Linked DNA regions of Homo sapiens. The protein of the gene in region 2 interacts with the protein of the main gene of each other region in a biochemical or structural test. Each region holds a gene or a part of one and is shown on either strand. Other genes may lie near its edges.

Evidence for each region. Proteins that work in one complex are often made in the same cells at the same time.
Region 1: the proteins of PTEN (region 2) and SSR4 form a complex in vitro, tested with the Homo sapiens proteins (2 studies listed by BioGRID).

The regions. Positions count from the first base shown.
Region 1 is NC_000023.11:153,789,728-153,797,683, reverse strand, and holds the start of SSR4 (translocon-associated protein subunit delta isoform 2 precursor), read right to left. Parts: upstream 3,017-7,956; 5' UTR 3,011-3,016; coding exon of another isoform or gene 2,997-3,010; coding exon 2,930-2,996; intron 2,022-2,929; exon of another isoform or gene 1,828-2,021; intron 1,251-1,827; coding exon 1,132-1,250; intron 227-1,131; coding exon 152-226; intron 1-151. Other genes in the region: IDH3G (isocitrate dehydrogenase [NAD] subunit gamma, mitochondrial isoform a precursor), read left to right, coding at 3,358-3,438, 6,833-6,874, 7,109-7,120, 7,392-7,489, 7,860-7,956. UniProt on the Homo sapiens protein: TRAP proteins are part of a complex whose function is to bind calcium to the ER membrane and thereby regulate the retention of ER resident proteins.
Region 2 is NC_000010.11:87,964,614-87,971,630, forward strand, and holds part of PTEN (phosphatidylinositol 3,4,5-trisphosphate 3-phosphatase and dual-specificity protein phosphatase PTEN), read left to right. Parts: intron 1-673; coding exon 674-859; 3' UTR 860-7,017. UniProt on the Homo sapiens protein: Dual-specificity protein phosphatase, dephosphorylating tyrosine-, serine- and threonine-phosphorylated proteins.

The DNA of each region.
Region 1 (7,956 bases), on a different chromosome or scaffold from region 2:
GAGGGGCCACCCTGACCACCAGTGCCGACACTGCAGCACTCCGGCAGCCAGAGCCCACGGCCCCTGGCCCTGGTTGACCGGCCACCCCTGGGGCTTCAGGTCACACCCGGGAGCAGGGAGCCCCCTAGCAAGGGAACCATTGGCCCCTCACCTGATAACGCCCCACATCCTGGCCTCGAGTGACAGGGAATTGTTTTCCACCGACGTCAGCATAGAGAGCCATGTTCTGGGTGAGGGAACAAAGGCAGGGTCACCTTCTGCCCCCTCTGGGTGTGGGCAGAGGAGCCCTGTGCGCTGCTCACACGGCCTGCAGGTGGGCAGGCTAGGCCCAGTTGGGGGCTGCAGTGTCCCTGGCAGGAGGTACCAAGTAACACTCACCAATCCCGTGACTGGCCCTCTGCATTGGTCTTCCCTACGGGGGCACAAGGCCAGATCCCCATGGCCGGGCCTAACTGGACGCATAGGAACCCTGTTGACTGTGAGCAGGGGCGGGATGATCAAAAGGGCTGAGTGATTTCCTGAGTCTACAAGGGAGGTGCTGGGGTCAGGGGTGCCCAGTGGGCTGCCCAAGGGGTGCTTTACCCTAAGAGGGCCATACCCAAAAAAGGCCCCATTTCCTTCTTTGGACTTATGGGAACTTAGCTGGGCATGGTGGCGAGCACCTGTCATCCCAGCTACTTAGGAGACTGAGAGGAGAATCGCTTGAACCCGGGAGGTGGAGGCTGCAGTGAGCCAAGATCGTGCCAATGCACTCCAGCTGAGGCAACAGAGTGAGACCCTATCTCAAAAAAACAAACAAAAAACAAAAACAAAAACAAAACACCCACACAGACAAACTGGCCAATGGCAACCGGGGTGGGCTGACTCCTGGCCCTTTCTCCCGGTCCAGATACTCATTCAGGAAACAGCGGGTGGTGAGCCCAGGGTTACCTCGTGTAGGCACAGCACACAAAGCAGGTGAGGAAGGTGACCTGTCAACACTGGCTAGGATCTGGCATCACCGTGCCCTGATCTCTCCGGCACCCCAAGAGTTGGAATCTTGATTCTCCCTCTATCGACACAGGTCCCCCATCAACTAGCAGTGAGGAGCACCCCCCACCCGCCCTCCTGTCTGAAACCCCACTGTCTCACCTGGACCCTGTTCTTGCATGTCAGGGAGATCTCCACAATGAAGACGGTCTCAGTGGAAATGACAGCGTCAGAAGTGGTGTAGTAGGAAGGGGTGATCTGGGGCTCCAGGCAGGCCTCGGCTGCGGGGAAGAGGGAGAGATGCCTGGGTAAGGCCAGCTCGAGTATCCCGGTCTGAGGGCAGGATGGCCCGGCCCTGCCTCATAGCACGGATCAGCTGGGGACCCATGCGCTCTTCCTGCCCCTTCCAGGTGGGATATGCGAGACAGATCCAAGTGCTCGGTCACAAATGCAATGGCAACGTAGGCGGGATGGCTGTGAAGGAAGGCTGGGGAGGGGCAAGGCCGGCTTTCTGGAGGTGTGCAGGAAGAGCGAACTGGGGACAGGTGGGGGCTGGATTCACTGGACAATACATGCCAACACTTGGACCTATGACACGGAGGCCCGGGGGCCACGCCAGCCTCAATTCAGAGCCACAAACGGCCTGGACGAGTTACTGAAGGCATCCTCAGCAGAGACATCGGGGGTGGGGGCTGCAGGCAGGCAATGCACTGGGGCTTTCAAGATGAGAGAAAGGGTCTCTGCCCCCGGCCAGTTGACAGAAGGTGAAGACTGGCCCCAGCGTTTCCTGAAGAAGTAAACGGGAGAGACTCTGGTTCCAGAAGCACAACTTGTTAGCTGTGAGAGAAAGGACCTTGCCTTAGCCTTCTCCATAACCAGAGGCCCAAAGGAAAGGAAGGCTGCCGCCTACATCAGAGGGTGTGAAACAAAGGCTCCCCAAAGTGGGAATGTTCTCAGCCACCCGCTGTCCAAATGTGGTGCCCTGGCAGAACGATGGCTTCAGCAGAGGACGTCAGAGAAGGCTCTGGGTCTGGACCACAGGAGGCAGATCCCTAGGAACAGCGTGGAGGCAGTTCTCAGGGGCTAGATCCCGCCAGCCCTTCTGTGTCCTGCCTAAGTTGGGCCTGCTTCCTGTGGCGCAGGGGAGCCCCCGAAGGGTTTTATGGCCAGGCTTGTCCTCTGGATACGTCCCTGACTATAGTTCAGGGAATTCCTGAGGGGCAGATGAGGAGTGTGCGGAAAGGGAGGCCAGTTAGGCTGCCAAAACGTTGCAGGCAGCAAGGCTACTGGCCTGAAGGACGGCAGAAAAGGGAATGTGGAGAAAGCCGCCCCTGTCCAGTCCTGGCCCCCGGGCCCGGGGCTGGCTGCTGCAGCCACCTCCTAAACACACTCTGGAGTTCAGACCTCAGCCCCTCACGAATGCAAATCGACGGGACCCCTGGTCGGCTCTGCCGAAAACTCTGGTAAGGGTAAGGCAGGGCCCTCCGGAAAAGCCAGTCTTCGGCCTGGCACTCAAGGCCCTGCGCACCTTTGGCTCCCCATCTAACTCGCCCCGCTCTTGCTCCCTCTCCTCACTGAGGTCCCTTCCTAGCTTATGTGGCTCCTCCAGCCCCGTTTTTGGCCGCGATCGCTCAGCGCTACAGAGCTTCGCTCCGGTCCGACCCCGCAGGGAGCGGGAGCCGGGACATGTGTCACGTTCCGTGCTGCAGCTTGGGGGCCGGGCGCACCATGGAGGCTCGGGGACTCCTCTTCGTATGGGCAGACAAGGAAAAGCCTGGCTGCCGGTAAACGTGCGCGAGGTGCTTTGGTCCCCCCGTCCCAAGGCCGCCTGCCTCTCGGGGGAAGGCCCGGCCCGCAGCGACGGACCCTGAAAGGCCGGACCCCCGCATCCCTCCTGCCCCCAACACCACCTGCCGTGGGTCAGAGGCTCGCAAGAAAGAAGCCCCGGCTGGGCCGCTACCTGAGCAGCGGGAGAGGCTGGACAGCAGGAGCAGCGCCAGGGCGCCGAGAGATGCCATCGCCGCCATCGCCTCTTCTCTGCCTAGAGGAAAAGAAAACGAGCTCCCATGAACACGAGGGGCAAACGAGGAAGAGCGACGCGTAAGTGGCAGCGGCAGCCAATCGCGCACCGAACGGCTGGGCCGGCATTGTGACGTCTCTGGCAGCACTGACGTGGCCCCTCCCTGAGCCAGGGGCCCAGCTGGTCGCGGTCCCCCCCTCAACATGGCGGCAGCGGTGCTCTAGGCGCCGGAAGGGGGCGTGAATCGGTGCGACCGCGCGCGTGCGCAGTACCGGGTCCGCGCCTGTCCCCGAAACTTCGCACCCCGTCGAACTCTCGCGAGAGCGGTATCTGCGTGTCGGGACGTGCGGAGGCTCTCACTTTCCGTCATGGCGCTGAAGGTAGCGACCGTCGCCGGCAGCGCCGCGAAGGCGGTGCTCGGGCCAGCCCTTCTCTGCCGTCCCTGGGAGGTGAGCAGGGAAAGAGCCACGGGACCGCGGCAGCGGTCGCAGGGGAGCGGTGGGGTAGCCGCACCCGAAGCAGTCTGGAGTCCGATTGGCTAGGGGCCCCACCAGGGGCGGGGAAAGGGCTTCGCGCCGGGGTTGATTGGCCGCCTCCGCTGTCACTGAGGGGATTGGCCGAAGTTGGCCCTGGACCGGCTCCCCCAGGGGGTCTGCATCGGGTGGCGGGGGGCCCTCCGGACGGGCCGGGAGAGTGGGCCACGGCGGCTGTCACCTCCTTAGTGTCCTTGAAGGAGCCCTTCTGAGGCAGTCACTCACGTATCCCGGCCCGCCTTTCTCAAACCGCTTCGGGAATCCGGTTCCGGGACTCAAATTTCTCCACGGTTTCCTCTCTCGTGGACCGCTTTGCCACCTATCCCGGTGGCAAAGAACCGGACTTTGCCAGTCATCCCCCATAGTCCCCCAGTCTTAGAGCCCCAGATGCCTTCCCCTCGAGGCGCCTGGAATGGGAAGGAGCTAGGGTTTCTGAGGCTGCGGGGGTTTTGCTTCTGCTCTTCTCCGTGTGCGGTCTTGCGTATTCAGGTCCGAGTCTTCTTTCCTTACACTTATTTAAGAAGAGGTTAATTTAGGTCCTAGGTGGGCTGGAAACCATCTGAAGCAGCTGCCAGCCAGCACCTGGCCCTGATGGGTAAGAGGTTTGACCTCTAGGCCATGCTCCCACACTGAGCCACTGCGTGGCCTTAGGCCATTTCCTCCTCTCTCTGGGTTCTAGTTTCCCCTTTGGAACCCAGAGGGGAGGAGACTTCATGTTCTCAAAGGATCCTGTCAACTCTGACCTTCCAGAACTCCGTGACTTTGCGGCCACTCCCCAGGGACATCTCTACTTGCCATGTTTTCTCCTTCTGACCTCTGGGGGAGACTGCTTGTGCCTAATGAAATTCTCTTGACGATGCTGACTTCTCCCACCTTGCTGCTGAAAGGACGGCAGTATATAGTGGCTTTCCAGAGGCTCTGATGGCTCCAGCAACTGGGCTCCTGTAGGCTCTTGGTGAAGACATGTGTGCCTCCTCCCTGACCTCCCCTGTGTGTGTGCCTGTGTGTGCGTTGGGGTGGGAGTAGGGGACAGTGAACGGTGGGTAGCTGGGCAGTGCCTTGCCCTGAGACTGACCGTCCTGGGTGTGAGAACCCTTACAGAGGAACCCCAGGTCTTGAATCCCACTGATTTGGACGCCATAGGAAAACATGCAGCCACCATTGACACATGGTCCAACAGAAATATGCCAAAGACAGAAGCCTCAGCAGGCATAAGATGTGGGGTGTGGATGTTCTTTCTTTCCATGGAACCATGAAAGGGTGATGGGAGAGCGGGAGGCGTGTACATATTGCATCCTGCCTCACACTTGGCTCCTTTGATTGGTGGCTTCACAGGGAAGTCAGGGCACAAGGCAGAGCCTTTGCGACCTCCTGAAGGAAGGTGCCTGCATCTGTACAGTAAGGTCAGGGAAGTCCATCTGGAGCGCTCTCTGGGTCTTTTGCCAAAGCCCAAAGGAACACCTGGCACAGGGACCGGGTGGCAGAGAGGTTCAGCTCAGCCCTGGTGGTGATGTTGCCATCTGTGAGGGAGGTCCATGCTCTCAGGAGATTGGCTTGCTGCCACAGCTGAAGCCCAGGAGGAACTACTGCTGGGAGCTGCAGGGGTCCACCCGTGACCTCCCAGGGACACCAGCCTTGAACTCTGACCTGAGGGGCCAGTGGGGTGAAGGGGCAGGCGTGCTGTGTGGCACTAGCTACTGTGAGCAGCTCACACACCTCCTGTCCCCTAATCTTTCCAACAGTCACGGAAAGTAGGTACCTCCGTTCTGTGAATTTCAGATGAGGCCATGAAGCCATCTCAAGAAGAGTGGATGGTGGATTTGGACCGAGGCCTCCCTAGTCTCCAGATCTTTTTTCATTTTCTGATGTGCTTGTTCACTCAGGAAATGTTCCTTATGTGCCAGCTCTGGGCCAGGTACTGTGCTGGGTCCTAGGGTGACAGTATTGGACCACACTGACTTGGCCCCTCCTCTCGGGCTCAGGGGTTGAGGAGGGAGCAATGCAGTGATAACCTAGGGAAGGGGGTAAGTAGGGCCTTAGGGTCCCAGCTCAGTAGCCTTAGGGCATCAGGGAAAGCTCCCTGGAGGAAGGTCCATCGAAGCCGCTTTCTGCGTGCTTACAAGAGCCCCCAAATAAGATGATTTCAGATGTTGATAAGCGCTAGAGAGAAGACAGAAAAGTCCCGACCCGTTGATAAGCGCTAGAGAGAAGACAGAAAAGTCCCGACCGTGCCTGTGCTTGCAGATCCAGGTGCCACACAGATCAGCTGAGCTATCCTCGGGGCTCTGGTCCTTGTGGGCACCCTCTCCTAGCCCCTGGCTTGGACTGATGAGTGCCGGCCAGGGACACACAGACAGGGAGAGGTCAGACTCCGCCCGAGCCTTTCTGGACTTCTAGCTGGAAGGCATGGCTCTTTGGCCAATGGCTATGATGCTTCTGCCATTGGCTGGAACACTTTGCTGCTGCCTGGTGGTCAAGTGGCAGGGCATCCCCAAGTGACAGGGAAGACCTTGGCTCTGCCACCGTCTCAGGTGTGTTCTAGGTGGGGCTTCTTCCAGGACAGCAGGTCACTTGGCACCTGGCACATTTGGCTCAGGCAGCTTTGGCTCTGAAGCTGTCCGGCATTTCCAGTCAGGGCGTTGGGGACATTCGGCATCCAGCAGTCCTTTCCGAAGGCCTTCCTAGAGTTGGGTTTCTGTTATCAACCTTCCAGAAATGGCTGGATGTCCCTACACATTTGTTTTCGATTTCTAATGCCGAAGGGCCATTCCCCAGGGGGCCAGCAGTGCTTGTCTCAGGGAGGCCGGAGGCTGGGTGCTACCTTCTTATCTCCCTATTCTGCTTTTTCTGTAGCGACCACATGCTGCTTTTGTAATAAGAAAAAGTGATCGGCGAAGTGATAACGTGACTGTTGTCATGGATCTGTGGTTTGTTGTAATGATTTCCCTGCTGTACCAGGGTTAGTTTGCCAGTTTTTGCATGTTACAAACATCGCTGAGCGGGAATAACTGGCCAAAAAAATAATCAGAAGCAAAAAAGAGGAGGGAGGGCAGGGACACGCCTTTTAAGAAATTTTCTGAAGAGCGGAAGGAGGCAGGAGGCTGGAGCGCCTTCTACTTTCCAGGTGCTCCAGCGGGCCGGCCCTGGGGACTGAGGCTTTGGAGCTAATTATCTATTGTGCCCCTGGCAGTGGGCCATGCTGCACAGACAGGGGACCTGCCTGGGCACAGTGGGGACGGTCCGTTTTTCCTTCCAACTTGGCTTTCTGGGTTAGACATCAAACCAACCGCTGGCATTTGGTCTCTGCCAGGTTCTAGGCGCCCACGAGGTCCCCTCGAGGAACATCTTTTCAGTAAGTACCTGCCCGTGCCCACGCATGTGTCTTTCTCCATGTGGCCGCAATTGTGCGCGTGTGTGCACGGCCTGTGTCCTGTCCTCTGAGACGTGGTCTCCAGGGGCTACCCACCCCTCTTCTGGGAGTTGTACTAGCCAGCATCCCCCTGGGAAAAGGTCCCACTTTCCTGGTCACGGCCTTGCTCTTGGAACCTTGGCTGATTGTGTCTTCTTCCTTTCTCATCCTTTCTAGGAACAAACAATTGTGAGTATTCTTCTCTGCCTGTTAGGTTTGGGGGGCTCTTAGTTGCTTTGGGGTTAACTAAATTCCAGGTGGGGGTGGGCTGCTGCTGACCCAGGAGCCCTGGATGAGCAGCCCTGTCTGGGACGGGGCTGCCCCAAGTTGGCACCTTGTGACGGGGCAGCCTGTGGGGTCAGCGCCAGTGGGAAGAAGGGAATTGGCTTGAGCCCATGGGGGCCGAGCTGGGGGCATGTGGGATCCCCGAAGGCCCACCTTCACCCTCTGCCTCCCACAGCCTCCGTCCGCTAAGTATGGCGGGCGGCACACGGTGACCATGATCCCAGGGGATGGCATCGGGCCAGAGCTCATGCTGCATGTCAAGTCCGTCTTCAGGTATGGAGCTCCTGGGTCCCCGCCTTGTCCTCAGCCAGGGGGCCCTGAGGACTTTGTGCCAAGAGGGGCATTGCGCCCAGAAGCACTCGGTGAGGCCATGGCAAGACGACCTGTAAGCCCAGGCCTTGCGTCCCATGGCCTGTGATCCCGCCAGACTGGCCTGGGCTCGGGGAAGGTGGCACCAGTCCTGCCACAGTGTGCATTGTGGAGTTCAAGCGTGTCCCCATCAGTCAGTGAAGGTGGGCCCAGTCCCTTCTCAGTCAGAGCCAGGTCAGGGCAGGTAGCAACAGGAGAGAGGTAGCCTGGGCAGGCTTCCTGGAGGAGGTGCGGGGGGGTCTGGGCCAGCCTCCCTGACCCTGCCGTGCCTCAGGCACGCATGTGTACCAGTGGACTTTGAAGAGGTGCACGTGAGTTCCAATGCTGATGAAGAGGACATTCGCAATGCCATCATGGCCATCCGCCGGAAC
Region 2 (7,017 bases):
ACTCAGCTGTTTGTGAATTGAATTTTGTAATTCAAATGCTATATTATGTAAACTATTGATGACTTTCAATCTGCATTTATTTTGTATAATTATTTAGTTAATATTTGCCACTTATATTCCTTAAAAAATAAAATTGAGGTTGGGCGTGGTGGCTCACACTTGTAATCCCAGCACTTTGGGAGGCTGAGGCAGGCAGATTGCCTGAGCTCAGGAGTTTGAGATCAGCCTGGGCAACATCATGAACCCCATTTCTACTAAAATACAAAAAATTATCTGGGCATGGTGGTGTACACCTGTAGCCCTAGCTGTTTGGGAGGCTAAGGCACGAGAATTGCTTGAACCCGGGAGGCAGAGGTTGCAGTGAGCCAAGATCATGCCACTGCACTCCAGCTTGGCAACAGAGCAAGACTCTTGTCTCCAGAAATAAAAATAAATAAATTGTATTAACATCCTGATAGTTTATCTGTTTAGTACCTAGCAAGAAAGAAAATGTTGAACATCTTAAGAAGAGGGTCATTTAAAAGGCCTCTTAAAGATCATGTTTGTTACAGTGCTTAAAAATTAATATGTTCATCTGCAAAATGGAATAAAAAATCTGTTAAAAATATATTTCACTAAATAGTTTAAGATGAGTCATATTTGTGGGTTTTCATTTTAAATTTTCTTTCTCTAGGTGAAGCTGTACTTCACAAAAACAGTAGAGGAGCCGTCAAATCCAGAGGCTAGCAGTTCAACTTCTGTAACACCAGATGTTAGTGACAATGAACCTGATCATTATAGATATTCTGACACCACTGACTCTGATCCAGAGAATGAACCTTTTGATGAAGATCAGCATACACAAATTACAAAAGTCTGAATTTTTTTTTATCAAGAGGGATAAAACACCATGAAAATAAACTTGAATAAACTGAAAATGGACCTTTTTTTTTTTAATGGCAATAGGACATTGTGTCAGATTACCAGTTATAGGAACAATTCTCTTTTCCTGACCAATCTTGTTTTACCCTATACATCCACAGGGTTTTGACACTTGTTGTCCAGTTGAAAAAAGGTTGTGTAGCTGTGTCATGTATATACCTTTTTGTGTCAAAAGGACATTTAAAATTCAATTAGGATTAATAAAGATGGCACTTTCCCGTTTTATTCCAGTTTTATAAAAAGTGGAGACAGACTGATGTGTATACGTAGGAATTTTTTCCTTTTGTGTTCTGTCACCAACTGAAGTGGCTAAAGAGCTTTGTGATATACTGGTTCACATCCTACCCCTTTGCACTTGTGGCAACAGATAAGTTTGCAGTTGGCTAAGAGAGGTTTCCGAAGGGTTTTGCTACATTCTAATGCATGTATTCGGGTTAGGGGAATGGAGGGAATGCTCAGAAAGGAAATAATTTTATGCTGGACTCTGGACCATATACCATCTCCAGCTATTTACACACACCTTTCTTTAGCATGCTACAGTTATTAATCTGGACATTCGAGGAATTGGCCGCTGTCACTGCTTGTTGTTTGCGCATTTTTTTTTAAAGCATATTGGTGCTAGAAAAGGCAGCTAAAGGAAGTGAATCTGTATTGGGGTACAGGAATGAACCTTCTGCAACATCTTAAGATCCACAAATGAAGGGATATAAAAATAATGTCATAGGTAAGAAACACAGCAACAATGACTTAACCATATAAATGTGGAGGCTATCAACAAAGAATGGGCTTGAAACATTATAAAAATTGACAATGATTTATTAAATATGTTTTCTCAATTGTAACGACTTCTCCATCTCCTGTGTAATCAAGGCCAGTGCTAAAATTCAGATGCTGTTAGTACCTACATCAGTCAACAACTTACACTTATTTTACTAGTTTTCAATCATAATACCTGCTGTGGATGCTTCATGTGCTGCCTGCAAGCTTCTTTTTTCTCATTAAATATAAAATATTTTGTAATGCTGCACAGAAATTTTCAATTTGAGATTCTACAGTAAGCGTTTTTTTTCTTTGAAGATTTATGATGCACTTATTCAATAGCTGTCAGCCGTTCCACCCTTTTGACCTTACACATTCTATTACAATGAATTTTGCAGTTTTGCACATTTTTTAAATGTCATTAACTGTTAGGGAATTTTACTTGAATACTGAATACATATAATGTTTATATTAAAAAGGACATTTGTGTTAAAAAGGAAATTAGAGTTGCAGTAAACTTTCAATGCTGCACACAAAAAAAAGACATTTGATTTTTCAGTAGAAATTGTCCTACATGTGCTTTATTGATTTGCTATTGAAAGAATAGGGTTTTTTTTTTTTTTTTTTTTTTTTTTTTTAAATGTGCAGTGTTGAATCATTTCTTCATAGTGCTCCCCCGAGTTGGGACTAGGGCTTCAATTTCACTTCTTAAAAAAAATCATCATATATTTGATATGCCCAGACTGCATACGATTTTAAGCGGAGTACAACTACTATTGTAAAGCTAATGTGAAGATATTATTAAAAAGGTTTTTTTTTCCAGAAATTTGGTGTCTTCAAATTATACCTTCACCTTGACATTTGAATATCCAGCCATTTTGTTTCTTAATGGTATAAAATTCCATTTTCAATAACTTATTGGTGCTGAAATTGTTCACTAGCTGTGGTCTGACCTAGTTAATTTACAAATACAGATTGAATAGGACCTACTAGAGCAGCATTTATAGAGTTTGATGGCAAATAGATTAGGCAGAACTTCATCTAAAATATTCTTAGTAAATAATGTTGACACGTTTTCCATACCTTGTCAGTTTCATTCAACAATTTTTAAATTTTTAACAAAGCTCTTAGGATTTACACATTTATATTTAAACATTGATATATAGAGTATTGATTGATTGCTCATAAGTTAAATTGGTAAAGTTAGAGACAACTATTCTAACACCTCACCATTGAAATTTATATGCCACCTTGTCTTTCATAAAAGCTGAAAATTGTTACCTAAAATGAAAATCAACTTCATGTTTTGAAGATAGTTATAAATATTGTTCTTTGTTACAATTTCGGGCACCGCATATTAAAACGTAACTTTATTGTTCCAATATGTAACATGGAGGGCCAGGTCATAAATAATGACATTATAATGGGCTTTTGCACTGTTATTATTTTTCCTTTGGAATGTGAAGGTCTGAATGAGGGTTTTGATTTTGAATGTTTCAATGTTTTTGAGAAGCCTTGCTTACATTTTATGGTGTAGTCATTGGAAATGGAAAAATGGCATTATATATATTATATATATAAATATATATTATACATACTCTCCTTACTTTATTTCAGTTACCATCCCCATAGAATTTGACAAGAATTGCTATGACTGAAAGGTTTTCGAGTCCTAATTAAAACTTTATTTATGGCAGTATTCATAATTAGCCTGAAATGCATTCTGTAGGTAATCTCTGAGTTTCTGGAATATTTTCTTAGACTTTTTGGATGTGCAGCAGCTTACATGTCTGAAGTTACTTGAAGGCATCACTTTTAAGAAAGCTTACAGTTGGGCCCTGTACCATCCCAAGTCCTTTGTAGCTCCTCTTGAACATGTTTGCCATACTTTTAAAAGGGTAGTTGAATAAATAGCATCACCATTCTTTGCTGTGGCACAGGTTATAAACTTAAGTGGAGTTTACCGGCAGCATCAAATGTTTCAGCTTTAAAAAATAAAAGTAGGGTACAAGTTTAATGTTTAGTTCTAGAAATTTTGTGCAATATGTTCATAACGATGGCTGTGGTTGCCACAAAGTGCCTCGTTTACCTTTAAATACTGTTAATGTGTCATGCATGCAGATGGAAGGGGTGGAACTGTGCACTAAAGTGGGGGCTTTAACTGTAGTATTTGGCAGAGTTGCCTTCTACCTGCCAGTTCAAAAGTTCAACCTGTTTTCATATAGAATATATATACTAAAAAATTTCAGTCTGTTAAACAGCCTTACTCTGATTCAGCCTCTTCAGATACTCTTGTGCTGTGCAGCAGTGGCTCTGTGTGTAAATGCTATGCACTGAGGATACACAAAAATACCAATATGATGTGTACAGGATAATGCCTCATCCCAATCAGATGTCCATTTGTTATTGTGTTTGTTAACAACCCTTTATCTCTTAGTGTTATAAACTCCACTTAAAACTGATTAAAGTCTCATTCTTGTCATTGTGTGGGTGTTTTATTAAATGAGAGTTTATAATTCAAATTGCTTAAGTCCATTGAAGTTTTAATTAATGGGCAGCCAAATGTGAATACAAAGTTTTCAGTTTTTTTTTTTCCTGCTGTCCTTCAAAGCCTACTGTTTAAAAAAAAAAAAAAAAAAAAACATGGCCTGAGAGTAGAGTATCTGTCTACTCATGTTTAATTAAGGAAAAACACTTATTTTTAGGGCTTTAGTCATCACTTCATAAATTGTATAAGCACATTAAATAGCGTTCTAGTCCTGAAAAAGTCCAAGATTCTTAGAAAATTGTGCATATTTTTATTATGACAGATGTTTGAAGATAATTCCCCAGAATGGATTTGATACTTTAGATTTCAATTTTGTGGCTTTTGTCTATTATTCTGTACTCTGCCATCAGCATATGGAAAGCTTCATTTACTCATCATGACTTGTGCCATATAAAAATTGATATTTCGGAATAGTCTAAAGGACTTTTTGTACTTGAATTTAATCATGTTGTTTCTAATATTCTTAAAAGCTTGAAGACTAAAGCATATCCTTTCAACAAAGCATAGTAAGGTAATAAGAAAGTGTAGTTTGTACAAGTGTTAAAAAAATAAAGTAGACAATGTTACAGTGGGACTTATTATTTCAAGTTTACATTTTCTCCATGTAATTTTTTAAAAAGTAAATGAAAAAATGTGCAATAATGTAAAATATGAAGTGTATGTGTACACACATTTTATTTTTCGGTATCTTGGGTATACGTATGGTTGAAAACTATACTGGAGTCTAAAAGTATTCTAATTTATAAGAAGACATTTTGGTGATGTTTGAAAAATAGAAATGTGCTAGTTTTGTTTTTATATCATGTCCTTTGTACGTTGTAATATGAGCTGGCTTGGTTCAGTAAATGCCATCACCATTTCCATTGAGAATTTAAAACTCACCAGTGTTTAATATGCAGGCTTCCAAAGGCTTATGAAAAAAATCAAGACCCTTAAATCTAGTTAATTTGCTGCTAACATGAAACTCTTTGGTTCTTTTATTTTTGCCAGATAATTAGACACACATCTAAAGCTTAGTCTTAAATGGCTTAAGTGTAGCTATTGATTAGTGCTGTTGCTAGTTCAGAAAGAAATGTTTGTGAATGGAAACAAGAATATTCAGTCCAAACTGTTGTAAGGACAGTACCTGAAAACCAGGAAACAGGATAATGGAAAAAGTCTTTTAAAGATGAAATGTTGGAGCCAACTTTCTTATAGAATTAATTGTATGTGGCTATAGAAAGCCTAATGATTGTTGCTTATTTTTGAGAGCATATTATTCTTTTATGACCATAATCTTGCTGTTTTTCCATCTTCCAAAAGATCTTCCTTCTAATATGTATATCAGAATGTGGGTAGCCAGTCAGACAAATTCATATTGGTTGGTAGCTTTAAAAAGTTTGTAATGTGAAGACAGGAAAGGACAAAATAGTTTGCTTTGGTGGTAGTACTCTGGTTGTTAAGCTAGGTATTTTGAGACTACTTCCCCATCACAACAACAATAAAATAATCACTCATAATCCTATCACCTGGAGACATAGCCATCGTTAATATGTTAGTGACTATACAATCATGTTTTCTTCTGTATATCCATGTATATTCTTTAAAAATGAAATTTATACTGTACCTGATCTCAAAGCTTTTTAGCTTAGTATATCTGTCATGAATTTGTAGGATGTTCCATTGCATCAGAAAACGGACAGTGATTTGATTACTTTCTAATGCCACAGATGCAGATTACATGTAGTTATTGAGAATCCTTTCGAATTCAGTGGCTTAATCATGAATGTCTAAATATTGTTGACATTAGGATGATACATGTAAATTAAAGTTACATTTGTTTAGCATAGACAAGCTTAACATTGTAGATGTTTCTCTTCAAAAATCATCTTAAACATTTGCATTTGGAATTGTGTTAAATAGAATGTGTGAAACACTGTATTAGTAAACTTCATCACCTTTCTACTTCCTTATAGTTTGAACTTTTCAGTTTTTGTAGTTCCCAAACAGTTGCTCAATTTAGAGCAAATTAATTTAACACCTGCCAAAAAAAGGCTGCTGTTGGCTTATCAGTTGTCTTTAAATTCAAATGCTCATGTGACTTTTATCACATCAAAAAATATTTCATTAATGATTCACCTTTAGCTCTGAAAATTACCGCGTTTAGTAATTATAGTGGGCTTATAAAAACATGCAACTCTTTTTGATAGTTATTTGAGAATTTTGGTGAAAAATATTTAGCTGAGGGCAGTATAGAACTTATAAACCAATATATTGATATTTTTAAAACATTTTTACATATAAGTAAACTGCCATCTTTGAGCATAACTACATTTAAAAATAAAGCTGCATATTTTTAAATCAAGTGTTTAACAAGAATTTATATTTTTTATTTTTTAAAATTAAAAATAATTTATATTTCCTCTGTTGCATGAGGATTCTCATCTGTGCTTATAATGGTTAGAGATTTTATTTGTGTGGAATGAAGTGAGGCTTGTAGTCATGGTTCTAGTGTTTCAGTTTGCCAAGTCTGTTTACTGCAGTGAAATTCATCAAATGTTTCAGTGTGGTTTTCTGTAGCCTATCATTTACTGGCTATTTTTTTATGTACACCTTTAGGATTTTCTGCCTACTCTATCCAGTTGTCCAAATGATATCCTACATTTTACAAATGCCCTTTCAGTTTCTATTTTCTTTTTCCATTAAATTGCCCTCATGTCCTAATGTGCAGTTTGTAAGTGTGTGTGTGTGTGTCTGTGTGTGTGTGAATTTGATTTTCAAGAGTGCTAGACTTCCAATTTGAGAGATTA